2 separate regions of the Homo sapiens genome follow, and region 1 is linked to region 2. The links come from fine-mapping of genetic effects on gene expression. A gene starts in region 2. The other region holds a variant in brackets. All regions are shown on one strand. Distances are from middle to middle.

Evidence for each region. PIP is the estimated chance that this variant, and not a neighbour inherited with it, causes the effect.
Region 1: its variant is fine-mapped to the expression of HPCAL1 in whole blood (INTERVAL, PIP 0.97).

What each region holds. Positions count from the first base shown.
Region 1 is chr2:10,332,919-10,341,245 of GRCh38, forward strand. The region is part of intron 1 of HPCAL1 (hippocalcin like 1); the gene reads left to right. Among named protein-coding and RNA genes, the nearest start is that of HPCAL1, 34 kb to the left of the region's middle. The variant C/T (reference allele first, on the strand shown) is at 3,607.
Region 2 is chr2:10,299,051-10,307,377 of GRCh38, forward strand. It overlaps HPCAL1 (hippocalcin like 1), which reads left to right and starts at 3,854. Exons shown (of 5, transcript NM_002149.4): 1 at 3,854-4,127. LOC101929691 (a long non-coding RNA gene) reads right to left here and starts at 3,667. Exons shown (of 4, transcript XR_922791.3): 1 at 2,528-3,667; 2 at 1,792-1,963. RefSeq lists silencers at 3,389-4,168, 4,053-4,250, 4,569-4,748 and an enhancer at 4,429-4,488.

The DNA.
Region 1 (8,327 bases), 34 kb after region 2:
GGCAGAAAGAGGGCTCAGAGGAGCCTGAGTGAAGTTTGATCTTGGGGTGAGGGGTGCAGGGGGGAGGGGCAGGGTGGGTCTTTGTTGGGGCTCTGTGGGAGATTTCAGGGCTCACTGGATGTGTGGGGCACAGTGGGCCCTGCCTGAGCCCCATGACGCCTGGACGCTGCCACCAGGGGCCTGACCTGCTGACGATCTCTGCACTGGGTCTTTAATCAGCCTCTTGGGCATTGTAAATGCTAGACAAAGATTCTTCTCTTTTTAAAGTTTACTAATTTCCCTACGATAAAACTAATGCATTTTCACAGGAGAGACTCGGGAAATTACCAAGGAGCGTGAATCAGGTGGTCACAGTGAATTGTGGATGTTTGTGTCTGTCTTGGGGAACTGGTGTAACGTTTCTCCATCTGACCCCTGCTGTCTGTTGGAGGTCAAGGAGCCAGCCTGGCCTCACAACTTCCTCCTTTCAGCAAAGTCAGGAGGCCATTCCCTCCAGGGATGGGTGGGCTGCAGCCTCTTGGCACCTCTCGGGATCCTGCTGGCAGATGTATCACCGTAGCCCAAGCCAGCCTAAGCCAGCCTCCTGTGGCCCAGCACCTTCTCTTCCCACGTGGGCAGCTGTGTTCCCAGGCAAACCTTCCTGGAATTGCTCTGTGCTCTCAGAGCTGGTGTGCTTTGGTGTTCAGCTGTGGCCATTTTGGCTTTGAGTTTGATTTGATTTTTGAAGAAAGTTTTTATTTCTTTACCCAAATATTCTATGTCTCTTTGGTAAGACTGGAAAACACAGAAAAACAGAGAAAAAAATTCCCCCATAACTACCCTGCCCACCTCCATATAACTTTTATTAGCATTCTGAGCTATACCCCTCCAGACTCATTTCTGCCTCTCCAGAAGTGTGCATAAAGTCTAGAAACATAGGTGAAGAGACCTAATGCCATCAAGAACATCAACCTGTAAAGGAATAAAATAATGTCATCTGTGTCCAGATTTTACAGATGCTTTGTAGATATGTGTAACAGAAATGTGGGTATGTTTTAGCAAAAATAAGACCATATTTTTGTTTTATTTTGATTGATTGTACTATAAATTCCAGTAGAGCATTACAGAGCCAGCCCAAGCCCATCTCTCCTCTTCTCTACTCTTTTCTTTCCCCAGTGACCAATAGCCACTCTGCGGAGGGAAGTAGGGATCATATTTGTGCGCGTTTTACGCTCTTGCTACACATGTGCGTAACCTTAAACAAAACATTAGTTTTTATGTGTTAGAAATACTCATAAATGGTGGCCCAGGCATGGTGGCTCACGCCTGTAATCCCAGCTCTTCGGGAGGCTGAGGCAGGAGGAGGCTTGAGGCCTGGAATTCAAGACCAGCCTGGGCAACATAGCAAGACCCTGTTTTGTTTTGTTTTGTTTTTTAAACAAACAAAAAAACCAACAACAGTTAGGTGGGTGCAGCATCATGTACCTGTAGTCCCAGCTCTTCAGGAGGCTGAGGTGGGAGGCTCTCCTGAGCCCAGGAGTTTGGGGTGATAGTGAGCTGTGGTCACACCACTGTACTCCAGCCTGGATGATGGAGTGGAGTGAGACCTTGTCTTTAAAAAAAAAGAAAAGAAAACAGAAAGAAATACTCATAAATGGTATATATATATATCACTTTGTAATTTGTTCTTGACTACTTTGTCAACAATTTTTAAGCTGTATCCATGTTGATACATAGATGTGGTTCATGGTCTTCTTTTTTCTCCTTTTTGTTAACTGCTGTATACAATTCCATTGACTTTTTTTTGAGGCAGGGTCTCGCTCTGTTACCCAGGCTGGAGTGCAGTGGCACGATCTCGGCTCATTGCAACTTCCACCTCCCAGGCTCAAGCAATCTTCCCACCTCAGCCTCCCAAGTAGCTAGGACTACAGGTACATGCCTGGCTAATTTTTGTATTTTTTATAGAGTCAGGGTTTTGCCAAGTTGCCCAGCCTGGTCTTGAACTCCTGAGCGCAAGTGAGCCACCTGCCTTGGCCTCCCAAATTGCTGGGATTACAGGCGTGAGCCACTGTGCCAGCCCCCATTGTCTAAATAAGCCATCGTTTCTCTAGTCATATACAGTTAGGTCACTTCCATTTTTTCATTAGTATAAAGAGTGCCATATGAATATTGATCCTCCTTGAGTGCTGTGGAAGGAAGCCTCTAAGATGCCGCCACTGGTCCCCACATCCTGGTCTTCACACCCTTGTGTAATCCCTTCCCTCGGGTGTTGGCTGGACTTAACTGACTTGATTCTAACAAATAGAACACAGCAGGAGGAATGGGACATCACTTCTGACATCAGGTTATAAAAAGACTGCAGCTGCCAGCTTGGGTGTTCTCTGTTGCCCTCTTGGATTGCCAGCCCTGGAGGGAGCCAGATGCCATGTCTCAAGGCAGTCCTGTGGAGAGGCAGGCCTAGGTGACAAGGGACCAAGGCCTGCCAACAGCCATGTGAGTGAGCTTGGAAGCAGATCTCCATCCGCTCCCCACTCCCAGCTGAGCCTTCGGATGAGACTGCTGCCCTGAAAACAGCAAAGGGGAACCTCATGAGAGACCTTGAGCCAGATTCCCAGCCCAGAGAAATTGTGAGATAATGTTTGTTGTTTTCGGCTGCTGACTTTTGGAGGGTCATTTGTTACACGGTAACAGATAACCAATACGAGCACACCCTGAGAATTCCTTAGAGGTCTAGAATATTTAGCAGTGGAATTGCCAGGTGCTATGGTATTCTCACGCTCAACAGTACTGTTTATTACTAAATTCATCTCCAAGGCATTTGTGGCAGTTTCACTCCCCTCTACAAGGGTCAGTGAGCTCCTTTTCCTCATACCTCTCCGGCACTTGTGTTGTCAGACTTTAACATCTGAACACTCTGATGGGTGTAAAATAGTATCTCATGATTATTTGAATTTGTACTTCCCTAAGTTCTAGTGAAGTTGGACATATTTTCGATACATTATTGTCCTTTCTGCTTTCCTCTGCTGTAAATTAATTGCATGTTCGTATCCTCTGCTGTAAATTAATTGCATGTTCATATCCTCTGCTGTAAATTAATTGCATGTTCGTATCCTCTGGTGTAAATTAATTGCATGTTCATATCCTCTGCTGTAAATTAATTGCATGTGCGTATCCTCTGCTGTAAATTAATTGCATGTGCGTATCTTCTGCTGTAAATTAATTGCATGTTCGTATCCTCTGCTGTAAATTAATTGCATGTTCGTATCCTCTGCTGTAAATTAATTGCATGTGCGTATCCTCTGCTGTAAATTAATTGCATGTGCGTATCCTCTGCTGTAAATTAATTGCATGTTCATATCCTTTGTCCAGTCTCCTTTTGGGTGGATTATCTTTTTCTTAGTGATTTGTAGATTTTCTTTTTTTCACTCTAGAGACTAATCCTTTGTCAGTTCATGCTATTTTATACTCTGCTTTTTTCAGTTAGCAGCGTATTGAGAATGTTCTTCTATGCCAATGTATACATCATTTTATTGACATTCCATTGTGGAGATGGGTCATTTATTTATTTAGGTGGACGTGTAGGTTGTTTGCACTTTTGCATTAGTAGGAACATGACTGTGTGTCGGT[C/T]AGCTGGGCTATGCTCTGGTACTAATGACCCTCCAAATCTTAGTGGTTTGCAGCAATGAAGAATTCTTTGTCCCTCAAGTGACATGACCATCACCTGTTGGTTGTGGCTCTGCTCTATGACGTTGTCCCTCAGGGAGCCAGGCTTTCAGAGCAGCCCCATCTGAGACATTGCTGGTCTCATGGCAGAGGGAAAAAAGATGGTGGAACAACATAATTCTATTTCTGTTTTTCCTCTTTAGAGACAGGATATTGCTGTGGCACCCAGGCTGCAGTGCTCTGGTGCTATCATAGCTCACTGCAGCCCCGGAATCATGGGCACAAGTGGTCCTCCTGCCTCAGCTTCCCAAGTAGCTGAGACTATAGGTATGCACCACCACACCTGGGTAATTTTTACTTTTTATATTTTTCGTAGAGATGGGGGCCTTGTTATGTTGCCCAGGCTGGTCTTGAACTCCTGGCCTCAAGTGTTCTTCCCACCGCAGCCTCCCAAAGTGCTGGGATTACAGGTGTGAGCCACTGGACCCGGCAGGAACAATATACCTCTTAAAGCTTCTGCTCAGACGTGGGAATGGCTATGTGGTGCGTGTCAGTTCCCCTCACATTGCATTGGCTGAAGCAAACCCTGGGGCCCAACCAGTGTTGGCGGGGTTAGAAGTAGACCCCTCCCATAGGGAGGCCAGGGAGGGAGGATTTTGAGCCAAGACCACTCACCACGTGCTGTGATGAGCAGTTGCCTCCCCCTCCTTTCGTGTCTTCGTGCCTCCTCACGTATTCTTACAAGTAGAATTGCTACATTAGGAATATGCATATTTGTAAAGTATTTACTATTTATTATGTCAGCTAGGTTTTAACTGTCACTGCATTTGCTGTGAATTATAGGTAATTATTCATCCTGATGACCATTTAAAAAAGAAGAACAATATTATTAGGTAGAAATAGTCCCTGGCTCCCCGGTTGCCCACCGTGACTATAACAGCATATCTAGCTTGGTAGTTTTCAAATTATTTCCACGTTTTATTTACTTCTCACAGCCTCCCTGTGGGGTTGCAGGTGCTTCTCCACTCCTCCACTGACAAGGTGCCTGAGGCTCAGAGAGGCTGAGAAATGTGCTCTGGGCTGCACAGCTGGGGATGAGGCGTAGACCCTGGCCCTGCTCTGTTCTGGGCTCTTTCTCCTCCACTCTGGCCTTTGGAGGCTGTGGCTAAGATCTTCCCCCAGCCCCTTCCTTCCCACCTTCCCTTCCTGCTCTTGTGCCCCGTTTTTCACAGTCCTCAGTGGCTGGTTTCTCAGTCCCCCAGGAGGTGCAGGCTGGTTCTTAGGAATGGTCTCTGTCAATGTTCCCGGCAGTACCTCCGAGCCTGCCCTCTGAGGATGGGTCGGCCATGGCTGCGCCGGCTTAGTCTGTATTTAGGTATCACTGACTATCACTGGACTTGGGGAGGGGATTTACTATTTTTAGAGAAAGTCAGGGGAGCTCCATAAATCCTGTTAGTCAACAGAACTGCAGAGAGGTGGCTGTTTATGAAGGAGAGTGACTTTTTTAGAAGTGGCGCATTTAGAAGACCACATATTCTATCATTCTGTGTACATGAGCGGTGCAGAATAGGCAATTCTAAAGAGACAGAAAATAGATTCGTGATTGCAGGGAGTGGGGAGGAGGGATGGGAAGCGACTCCTAAGGGGCACGGGGTTTCTTCTGGGGGTAATGAAAAGCGTTCTGGAATTAGATAGTGGTGGTGGCTGTAGGACCTGGTGAATAATAAACTGAAAATCACTGAATCGTACCCCTTAAAAACACACAAAGCAAATTGACAAATTATTGGGAGGCAACATAAGAGAATGGGGTGTGAACTTTGGATCAGTGCGGCCTGGATATCAGCTGTGTGGTGTTCAAATAGATTGCATAACCTCGTTGAGTCTCAGTCTTCCCATCTGTGAAGTAGGGATCATTCCTACTTCGTAGGGTTGGCATGAGACTCCGTGAGATGAAGTTGGTGGGTCACTTGGCTGGGGCAGGTGTCACGGAGCGGGACCTGTGATTGTTCAGCCACCTACTCTGTGCCCAGTGCTGTGTTGGTGACCAGGTATGTATGAAGTCAGTAAGCCACAGTCCTGAGTTATGGTGCAGACCCCACATGCACCCAGAGTCAGCTTGGCAAGACCCCTTGACACCACGTGCGTGGAGGGTGCAGGTCGGAGAGCTCACCTCCATGGATTCCGTAGAGCTTTGAGGCGTATCCACAAAGTGTCCAGGAGAGGTGGCGTCGCCTCCACTTGATAGAGGAAAAAGCAGAGATGGAGGCAGCCAGAAGCATGGTGCAGTGGTGGGGTTTGGTCATTAATTTGATAATCACATGGAATACAAGCTAATGTTTATTGAGTACTTACTGCCTGCCTGCTACTGTAACTAAGTGCTTTACTCCTGTTATCTCATTTAATTCTCAAAGCAGCCCTGTGGCACTGAGGTGGCTGGAGATGGAGGGATGTGTGGCTGCCATGTGTTTGCCAGGAAGCAGCAGGATGGGAGTGAGGGCACAGACAGACACACATGCCAGGACTTGTTTGCACGAAGCTGAGGAATGGGTGCCCATCATTCATTATACTCATCTCTCTGTTTTATGTATATTTGAAAAAAAAATTTTTTTTGAGATAGGGTCTCGCTGTGTCACCCAGACTGGAGGGCAGTGGCATGATCTCGGCTCACTGCAACCTCCACCTCCCGGGTTCAAGTGATTCTCCTGCCTCAGCCTCTGGAGTAGCTGGGATTACAGGTGGGCGCCACCATGCCCACCTAATTTTTTTTTTTTTTTGAGACCTGTCACCCAGGCTGGAGTGCAGTGGTGCGATCTCGGCTCACTGCAACCTCCGCCTCCCGGGTTTAAGCAATTCTCTGCCTCAGCCTCCCCAGTAGCTGGGATTACAGGCACATGCCACCATGCCCGGCTAATTTTTGTATTTTTAGTAGAGACGGGATTTCATGCCTGATTAATTTTTTTGTATTTTTAGTAGAGACAGAGTTTCACTATGTTGGCCAGGCTGGTCTTCAACTCCTGACCTCAAGTCATCTGCCTGCCTTGGCCTCCCAAAGTGTTGGGATTACAGGCGTGAGCCACCGCGCCCAGCCATATTTGAACTCTTTTACAGTAAAAAGTTTAAAAAACAACAATCCTATGAGGTAGGTCCTCTTATTTGTGCTTTACAGATGGGGAAATTGAGGCTCAGAGCATGTAAGATTACACAGCAAGATTCGGAGATAGCTCGCCATGTTCATGCCCGGCAGGACGTAGCAACAGGGCTGGCGAAACGGAGGCCCCAGGCTTGTGGGCCTCCTGGGGTTCCTGTGCGTTGAGGCCTGAGCCCCTGCGTGCGCCCAGCGGAGCCAGCACTCTCCCTGTGGTCCTACTGGGCATCACAGGTGTGTATGTGAGGGGTATGGGGAGGGGATTCTTGGTTAGTCTGGGCTTCATGACATTGGGATGAGTTCTTTCACTTGGTTTTGTTGATCTGGTAAAATCTGTGGTCCTGTGATATCACCTTGCTTCTCATAGTATGAGCCTTCAACATTTGGCCTCAGTGGTGGGGTGTGCCTGCACCGCCTTCCCCCATCCCTGCCTCGGCTCCTCCCCACAACAAAGCGGAAGGAAGACATAGACCCAAGGGTGCACTTCAGCCCCTCAACCAGCTGTGTGGCTTTGGAGAAGCGGCTTAACATCTCTGATCCCAGTTACCTTTCTTGAACGGGAAAGATATCAATGCTTCCTTCACTGATTACTGGAGCTTCTTGGTGTGCAGTGTCTAGGCTGCTTTCTAACCATGTAAGGTGTAGCCACAGTATTGTAGGACCTGTTGCTAAGAACTGTGCCACTATCTTGATAAACATGTTTTCCAGGGACTGGTGGTGGAATGTTCTAGTTATTAATGTGCCTTTAACGTTGGATGACTCAGAATATCCCTCAGATAGTAGGAATAGGTAGCTTTGAGAGGTCATCTGTAGGAGGGCGCAGGAACATCCCAGGAGGGGGTGTCATACCTGTTGGCACCATGGGGATGCAGGCTCAGAGGGGACTGAACTTTCCAGGGCCACGCAGTCTGTAAGCGGCAGAGCTGGGACGCAACCCCAAGCTTGCTGCTCTCAAAGCTTTGCTTTCAAACTCTCACTTCAGACATCAGGGCTTCCTTTCAGACTGAGTCTTATCCCTAAGCACTGTTGGAGAAGAAAGTCTCCAGGCTGCAGGGCCCCGCAGTTCCCCCATATCCCTGCCCTTCCAGCCAGCCCACGCCTGGGGCCTGTCCTCCCCTGTTCCTGAATCCCTGTCCTGTTACTGCCCTCCGGGTAAGACAGCACTCTTATAATCATGCTTCATGCCGAGTTCATGAAATTAACTCTCAAACTCCTCTTCTCTGGGTTAAATTATTTCACTTTTTTCCCTTCCTCATAGAATATCATTATAAATTCTAGATACTATATTGGATATGTAATAAAATCAGAATAAATTACATGTGATGGCCACTGAACTAACCTCCCTTCATGTGTCTGGAGGCAGGTTTTCTGTGGAGTTATGCTTTAAATTGGCTGTCCTTCGCGATTTTTCTTAAAGCCTAGGTTGACTACTCAAGGGTCTAGATTTATGATAGAAACTGTGGGCTGGGGTGCAGTGCTGGGGTGCTGGGGTGCCTGTAATCCTAGCACTTTGGGAGGCTGAGGTGGGCGGATCATTTGA
Region 2 (8,327 bases):
ATCACTTAATGGCAAAAGGACAGCTTTTTCAACAAATGGTGCTGGGAAAACTGGATATCTACATGCAAAAGAATGAAGCTGGACCCTTACCTAACACCATATACAAAAATTAACTCAAAATAGATCAAAGACCTAAAAGTAACCTAAAACTATAGAATTTTTAGAAGAAAACTTGGAGCAAAATCTCCACAATGTTGGATTTGGCAGTGATTTCTTGGATATGACATTAAAGACACAGACAACACAGAAAAATAGACAAATTGGATTTCATAAAAATTTGGTGCATCAAAAAGCAAAATCGGGCTGGTGCGGTGTCTCACGCCTGTAATCCCAGCACTTTGGGAGGCTGCGGTGGGAAGATCACTTGAGGTCAGGAGTTGGAGGCCAGCCTGGCCAACATGGTGAAACCCCGTCTCTACTAAAAATACAAAAATTAGCCAGACCTGGTGGCGCACGCCTGTAGTTCCACCTACTCGGGAGGCTGAGGCAGGAGAATGGCGTGAACCCACGAGGCAGAGCTTGCAGTGAGCCGAGATCACACCACTGCACTCCAGCCTGGGTGACAGAGCAAGACTCCGTCTCAAAAACAACAACAACAACAACAACAACAACAACAACAACAACAACAACAAAGTGCTGGCGGTGAGGATGTGAAGAAATTGGAACCCTGTGCACTGTTTGGCAGAATGTAGAATGGTACACTGTGGAAAGTATTATTATGATGCTTCTTCAAAAAATTAAAAATAGAATGACCACATAATCCAGCAATTCCACTTCTGGGTATATACCCAAAACAACTGAAAATAAGATCTTGAAAAGATATTTGTGCACCCATGTTCGTCGCAGCATTATTCATAATTGCTAAAATGTGGATGCAACCCAATGATTTCTTGACAAACGAGTGGGTAAACACAATGTGGTATACACACACATGGAAATATTACTCAGCCTTAAAAAGGAAGGAAATTTGGACATACACTACATCATAGATGAATCTTGAGGACATTATGCTAAGTGAAATAATCCAGTTGCAAAAAGGAAATACTGTATGATTCCACTTATGTAAGGTATTAGAGAGGTAGTCATTATTTAATGGGTATAGAGTTTCAGTTTTACAAGATGAAAAGAGTTCTGGAGATGGATGGTGGTGCTGGTTGCACATCATTAATGTATTTAATACCACTGAGCTGTTCACTTTAAAAGGATTAAGATGATAAATTTTATGTTATGTGTATATTATAATAAAAGTTAGAAAAAAATTGTCATAAAACTAAGTCAGATATTAAGAACAATCAGAATTACTTCTGTCTTGTTTACAGTCATCATATGAAAAACAAATTGTTTATCTAGCATGACACCTGTTATGGGTTGAATTGTTTCCCTCAAAAGATGCTGAACTTCTAACCCTTGGTACCTGTGAATGTGACCTTATTTGGAAATTGGGTCTGCACAGATGATCAAGTTAAGATGAGGTCATTAGGGTGTGCCCTAATCCAATAATGACTGTGTCCTTATGAAAAGGGAAAAGAGACAGGTATATAGAGAAGATGTGAATTCACAGGGAGCGCACATGGCCATCCATAAGCCAAGGAATGCATGAGGTTACCAGAAGCTAAGAGACAGACATGAAACAAACTGCCCCCCACATCTCTCCAAAGGGGCCAGCCCTGCCAACACTTTGATCTTGGACTTCCAGCCTCCAGAGCTACAAAACAACACATTTCTGTTGTTTAAGTTGCCCAGTTGGAGGTGCTTGTTACATTAGCCCCAGGAAATTATACAACATCTTACCTGAATTTGCTTTCTTCTTTGCTCTAGTTAAATTCAAAACTACATATTGAATAACGACGGTGTGCTCTCTCTCCATGAAGCTTCGGGGTGGGTAGACAGTCCTCCTCTTGAAGGAACAGGAGGGACGCAAGGGAAGGGACCAACTTGTATCTCATCTGAGAGAGATACACTCCTGGAATAAGAGGTCTGCGGTTAAGTGTGTTTCTCTAGAAGTTCAGAAACAGAGGAAGCATCTGCGGGCTAAGCTGCTGAGGGCTAGGTGAGAGCTAACTGACCTAAGTTTTGAAGGATGGATGGGTGACAGGTTGGAGGGGGAAGATGGAAAAGTCACATGGGAGAGGAACAGCATGGGCCAAGTGTGGAGGAACCAGTGAGTGGGCTGGGTTTCAGAAACAGGCCTTGGTCTGCTTTTGAGCCCTCCCTGAACTTTTCCACCCCAACCCCACCTCCTGCCTGTGTCTGCCATGCACCTCCCTTCCTGTGAGTCTGTGGACAGACTTTGCCCCTTTGCCCTGTGTGTGCTTGGGAGAAATCTGCTCAGTTTCTGTGGCAGGGATGTTTCTACGTGTTCATCAAACCGGCTTTGTTTACTTCCGAAACACTCATGAAGACCACAGCTGCCAGAGCCCCTTGCATCCTGGTGGGACTGTGCGACTACTTCTGGCCCATGGATGTGGGTGGAAGTGACGTGTGCTTCCCCAGGCCTGGCTCCTGGACCCCACCGACGGCTTCTCACCTGTAACCCCACCAGCCTTCTACCTGGATACTTCACGGGGAGCTAGAGTGGCCTTGGCTAAGAAGGAGGCATGGCACCCGCGGGTACCGGGCCGCCTTCATCAGTCGGTGCACTCTGGTCCACCGCCCACATGCCTTCATGTAATCTTCACTGTAGGGCCCACAGGGAGGGGAACTTCCTCGAGGTCTAGCTTTGCCTTTCCGCCTTCAGAGCCAAGTAAGAATGAGGGGTCTGGGCTCGGCCCACCTTCCCTGCAAGGCCCTGTGCCCGCTCCCCTCAAAGCTGGTCTTGCATGTTGCTCTGGCGGCCTCTGTAGCAGGAGTTCACTCTGTTTTCCGTGGAGGAGGAGTGGAAGGAGGGATTCAAGCTCTCCCCTAGAGACGCTAGAAAGACAGTTTTGTCTCAGCCTCATACGATCGCCCAGCTCCACATTTCTGGCTGTTTCTGTGGTTACCTTTCTTCGGGGATGTTTGGGGCGGGAGGTGGGTGTGTGTGTATATTTGCTCTTCTGAAGCCGTTTTTCCGGAGCTCCTGGTGGGGGTGGGGGTGCTCTGTCCCTGGTTCCTCTCGAGGCAGGTGCAGGGGATGGAGGATGCCCCCCTCCCCGAGAGCCAGGAGGCGCCGACCCTGGGCAGGAGGTGCCAGACCGGCGCCTCTCCCGCGTGGAGCTCGAAGACCACAGATGCCTGGAAGGGAGGAGCACCTTCCGTGGTTAGGTGGGGAAACCGAGGCAGAGGCGGCCCAATGGACTCGCCTAAACGGCCTGGGGAGTCACTGCAGGTAACCAGAGCTGGAGCCAGGCTTCCCACTCCAGGCCCGGGGCTCTCCCCCGAACAGGCGTGGGAAGGGGTGCGAGCTGCACGCGGGGCTGGGGCTGGGGGTGCGGGGCTGGGGCAACTCGGCTCTTCCCCTTCCTAGGCCGCCCGGGCCACTTCCTGCGGCGTGGGGGCGGGGGGCGCGGGCGCAGGGCTGGCCCCTCCCGGGCGCCGCCTCTCGGCCTCTTCTATACCAGCAGGCCAGAGGCCAAGGGTTAGGGGAACAGAACCGGTGCCCGGCTCCGCCCCTGTCCCGAAAGCCACTGGGGGCTGGGACCCGGCAGGGCCAGGTTTGGGCCGCGAGGGCCGAGGAGCAGCGAGGTGCAGGGGCTGCGAGGGCCGAGCCGGGCGCTGAGGGTCCGGCAGGGGGCGTGGAGGGGGCGGGGCCCGGAGGGGGCGGGGCCGTAGGAAACTTGAGCGCCCGCCTCTGGCCGCGCGCCCCGCCCCGGCCCCCGCCTCCGGGTCCCGCCTCCAGGTCCCGCCTTCGCGTCCCTTCCTTCCCGGAGCTGGCAGGCGGGCCGCGGCGGCGGCGGGCAGCGGACGGGCGGACTGACGGGCGCCTCCACCTTGCTCCCTCCCTGGCTGCCGGCTTCCTTTTGTCTTTCTGGGCGGCGATGAGCGCAGGGCCGGCGCAGCAGCTGCGGGCGCACGGAGGCCCGCGCTGCTAGTCACTCCTCCCGGCCTCGGCGCGCTTGTCCCGGGCAGCGGCCCGGGCCCGCTGCAGCCGCCGCCGGCGCCGAACTTGGGCTCGGGAAGCCGGCGGACCGCGTCCTGCGCCGGAGCAGGTAGGGAAGGGGCGGGCTGCGGTCTGCTGGCTGCTGAAGTGTGCCCCGGGCGTGTGCACCCGGCGTGTGCACCGGCGAGCGCTGCGATCCGGCTCTTTGCGTGTGTGTTGTGCGCGCGTGTGTGTGTCCGGGAGTGCCCGCGTTTCTCTGCGCGGTGGAGTTGTGGGTGACTGCGGACGGTGGTGTGTCTTTCGAATGGCGTGTACTCGTGGGCATCCATGTGTGCCTTAGGTGTGCACATTTTGGACTGCGTTTGTGGAATTGTGTGTCGGGGCGCAGTTGCTGGTGGGGAGCGGTGCCTGGCGGGTGTCGTGTGTGAGCAGCTGTGCGCAGAGCGGGGTGGCGGGGTGGGTGTGGGTGGTCCAGCCCCACGCCCAGAGCCCCCTGTCCCTGCTGGTCGGCGCAGTGCGTAGCTTAGGAGCCTCGAGGACAGCTGGGACCCGACGGGCAAGGGCGGGCCTCGCGGGCAGGCTGGGCAGCCCTCAGGGAACAGGTCCGTGCGGCCCACGTGGGTCGCCTGTGAGCTTCTGCCAAGGGTGGGGGCCCACGCGGAGGCGATCCGCTCGTTCCTCCCAGGGCCATGGGGCGACGAGGAGAGCCCTGGCCTCCCCGCGACCCGCACTGCGACCTGGGCCAGACGCGCCACCTTCCCCGGTCGCGGTTTGCTTCTCTTTAAAATGAGGACAGCTCCTCCCTTGGGGGCTGTGGTGACAGGTGAAATGAGAACGCACTGAAGACAGCTCTTGGTCCAAAGCCCCGCACACAGTAGGTACTGTGTTAATTGGATTAGCGTCTCCTGTTTAAAATCCTTTTTTTTTCCCCTTTATCGTGGGTGGGGCCTTACATTTTCCCCGGGCGTGTTTTGTGCCTCTCCCTGGCCCTAACTTAACCGCGAAGCACTGAGATTCGAGAAAGTTTAGCTGCCAGCTGCGCTGCCTCCTGCAGCACCTCCCGGGCGGCGCCGCCTCCGCGAGTGCCCGAGAGCGCCGCGCTGGGCGCCGGCCCTGCCCCAGCCCCCAGGCTCCCGCGCAAGCGTGGGGGTCCCTCTCCTGGCCGGGAGGCAGCGACTGCGGAGTTGAGAACCCTTTGGTTCAACAAGTTCCTAGTCCGGGAGGATGCAGCTCAGCTCGTGGAGTCCGAGAGTCACGGCGTAAAATTGGCGCTTCCCGCACATGCAGATCTCGGGCTCCCGGGGTGTCCCGGCCGCCAAAGGCCACCCCTTTCCTCCTGGCTGACCCCAATTCCACCAGAGGAGGATGTTTGCCAGGGACGCCGAGTCCAGCTGCTGGCCTCGGCATTAGACAACCCCCAGCCCCAGCCCCTGCCATCCCTGCTCCCTTGCAGCCAGCCTCATGCCGGGGGTGCCACATGGGACACCTCCTCCTAGTCCCACACCTTAATTTAAAACATTTACTTTTGAAACCTACTAGTCGTAAAATTGAACCGCAGTGAACGAGCACCCAGCTCTTACCACGACTCACTCTCTGGAGAGTTCTGGCGCCTCGGCGCTGGCTCGGACGCAGCAAGGCCAGCTCTAGGGGTCGGGTGGCTCTCGGCCAGAGCGAAGGATATTCTTTCCCTTCATCGCCTTGGTGTCTTTCTCTGGGGGAAAAAAATCGCCTTTAACCAAGGGAGCCAAGATCTCACCAGTGCAGGAGGCTCTCAAAATGGAGCGCCGGCATGGGGTTGGGCTGCGGAGGGGACAGCATGGGCGGCCTTTTGGTATGGATGCGCTTCCCAACTGTCAGGGGCTACGTGATGGTGTTCCCAGAGAGGCGGGCTGCTTTGCGGGCTTTTAGGAGCCAGGGATAGAAACCTGGTCCGGTTCCTTTGGTTTCCCTCGGCCGAGACTGAAGCCCTGCAATCCTAGCCATGGCAGGCCAGGGGGATGCGATGAACTCATTTTCTCATTTTTCATCCTGACTTAGTGACAGGGGCACACTTAGAATGCACCCTGTTTTCTGTTTCATCAAATGATTTTATGTCCTACAAGAAAAAAGGGCTTTTGGTGTGAATCCTACTCTTTCCTCATAATCAGGTTCCATAATAATATTAAAAAAAAAATCAGTCTGGCTTTCTCAGCTCAGAAGACAGACCCAAACCCAGGTTTGTGTTTTGTTTTGTTTTTGTTTTTTTCTAGTTAAAGCCAGCCCTTTGTCTCAAGCAAGCCAGTGTTTTGGCCTTAGATCTATTTCTGTTTCACTTTTGAAAGTGCCTGTAATTACTGAGCTCTTGAGGTTTTATTGGATAATGTGGCAAAGGGAAGGCCCGGGGGCCCTGCCTCTCCCTTGCGGTGGGATGTGGTGCCACGGTGGCACATTCTAGCCTTGCCTGCTCCCTCTGCGTCCCACTTTCATGCTGTTTTTAAGGTGGAACAGAAATGTCAATGTGTGATAACAATTTGGGAGACTTTGTCTTTGGAATCCAATAAATGGAAGGTCCTTTGATCTGTGGAGAAACCAGAACAAGTCAAAACCCCAGAAGAACAGAGATTTGCCCAAACTCCAGCCAATGACCCATTTATTTCCAACAAGCCCTCCTAGAGATAGATTCTAAGTGAAATACAAGAACGTGGACACACTCCGTCCCCTTTCTGGCCACAGGGCTGTGCAGAATTAGAAGTGCAGTCTATGGAAGGACAAGGACTGGACTTCGCTTGGTGCAAACGCCCCAGCCAGGCGCCCCATACTCACCTAGCACCATTTCACCCTGGAGCTGTTTCCTCCTGTTGAAGCGCTGGTGCTCACACCCCCTACCTTCAGGGCTCTGCAAGCACAGTTCCAAGGTCTGCAGCGCGGGTACAGTGCATGCCCTGCTGAGTGTGCGTCAGAGCAGTTGTCTCCCTGTGACACTTATTCTAAGACCCTTTTTGCTACTCATAAGTGGTAGAGTACCACACTCACTCATGAACCAGTGATAATCCAGGGTACTAACGGGGGCCCCGGAGTTTATTTGGCACCGAAGATTAAGCTACTTGGCAGCTGAATTTTTATCTAGATTGGGGTTAGGTTTGTATTAAAATTTTGCATTCCAGCAAGCCCTAAACCGTGCTTGTTCATTGTGGGATAATGCGTTCAACTGATGAGTTGCCAGGCCAGGATTGATGGGGGATTATGTGTATTCTGCTAGTTTGTCAGCACCTGATGTCACTGTGCTGGGGGGTGGGGGAGGCATGTTTGGAGTTAGGATGAGCAGACACTTGTAGATTTTAATCACACTCTACTTTGGGGCTCCCTGCTCTCCTATGGTAGCAGGGGGTTTCTGTGTCGTTCTTATGTCCTCATGTAAAGCTGCACATCTGTGAATGTCAGGTAGCTCTTGTGCTTTTCCCCTTAGATTGAGTTTCTAATCTGGGAATGACAGAGGGTGGCTGTATATGGAGACAGCAGCATGGGCTTAGGGGCTCTTTTGGTGCCAGTTACCCTACGGAAAAAAGGTTTCTTCAAATCACTTTCTACAAAGACTAAAAAATGGTTGGAATCTAGTGGTGCAGATTGTAATATGACTTCAGGTAATCAATACGGTTTGACAGGTGGAACATTTCTTAGATGCTGATGAGCAGGGCGCAAGTCTCAAGATTTTTAAATCATCTGAAAAGCACAGTAAATCCTTTAAAGAGCCCTACCTTGGCCATGTTGTTTCAAGTAAAATTGAATTTCAGAGGCAAAGCTTCACATCGGAGGCATGACGAACTAAAGAAATCCTTCCCAGAGACCTCCACTCTCTTCCTGTTGCCACCCTCCTCTGCCAGCAGCAGGGCAGGAAAGATGACTTCTTGGGGCTGTGTGCCTTTACCTTAAGAAGCAAGTGCACCCTGAATGCTTCTAATCCCGCAGCTGGGTTGTCTGGGTATTTGGATCTTTTTGGTGCTTGAGGTACTACCCAAGTTGGCAGGAAGCCAGGAGCCTGGGGGTGGAGGTGTCTTAGCCCCACCTGTGGCATGAGACAAGAGGTCTTCTCCAGCAAGGGATGGGTCTCTGACCCTTGGCTAAGAAAACTCAGGATTGTTAAATACGTACTGCATGGATAAGGTTGCTGTGACCCTGAAAAAAGGAAGAAGGCTTTTGGGTGGTGCGTGGTTCTCCTCTTGGAAGTCTTCCCAGATTTCGCCTCAGTACTCTCTTGCCCTAGCTTAAATCTTTCCTTGCTCTGTGTCCCCTTAGGCAAGTGAGGTCTCCTCTCAGGTAGGCATGATATTAA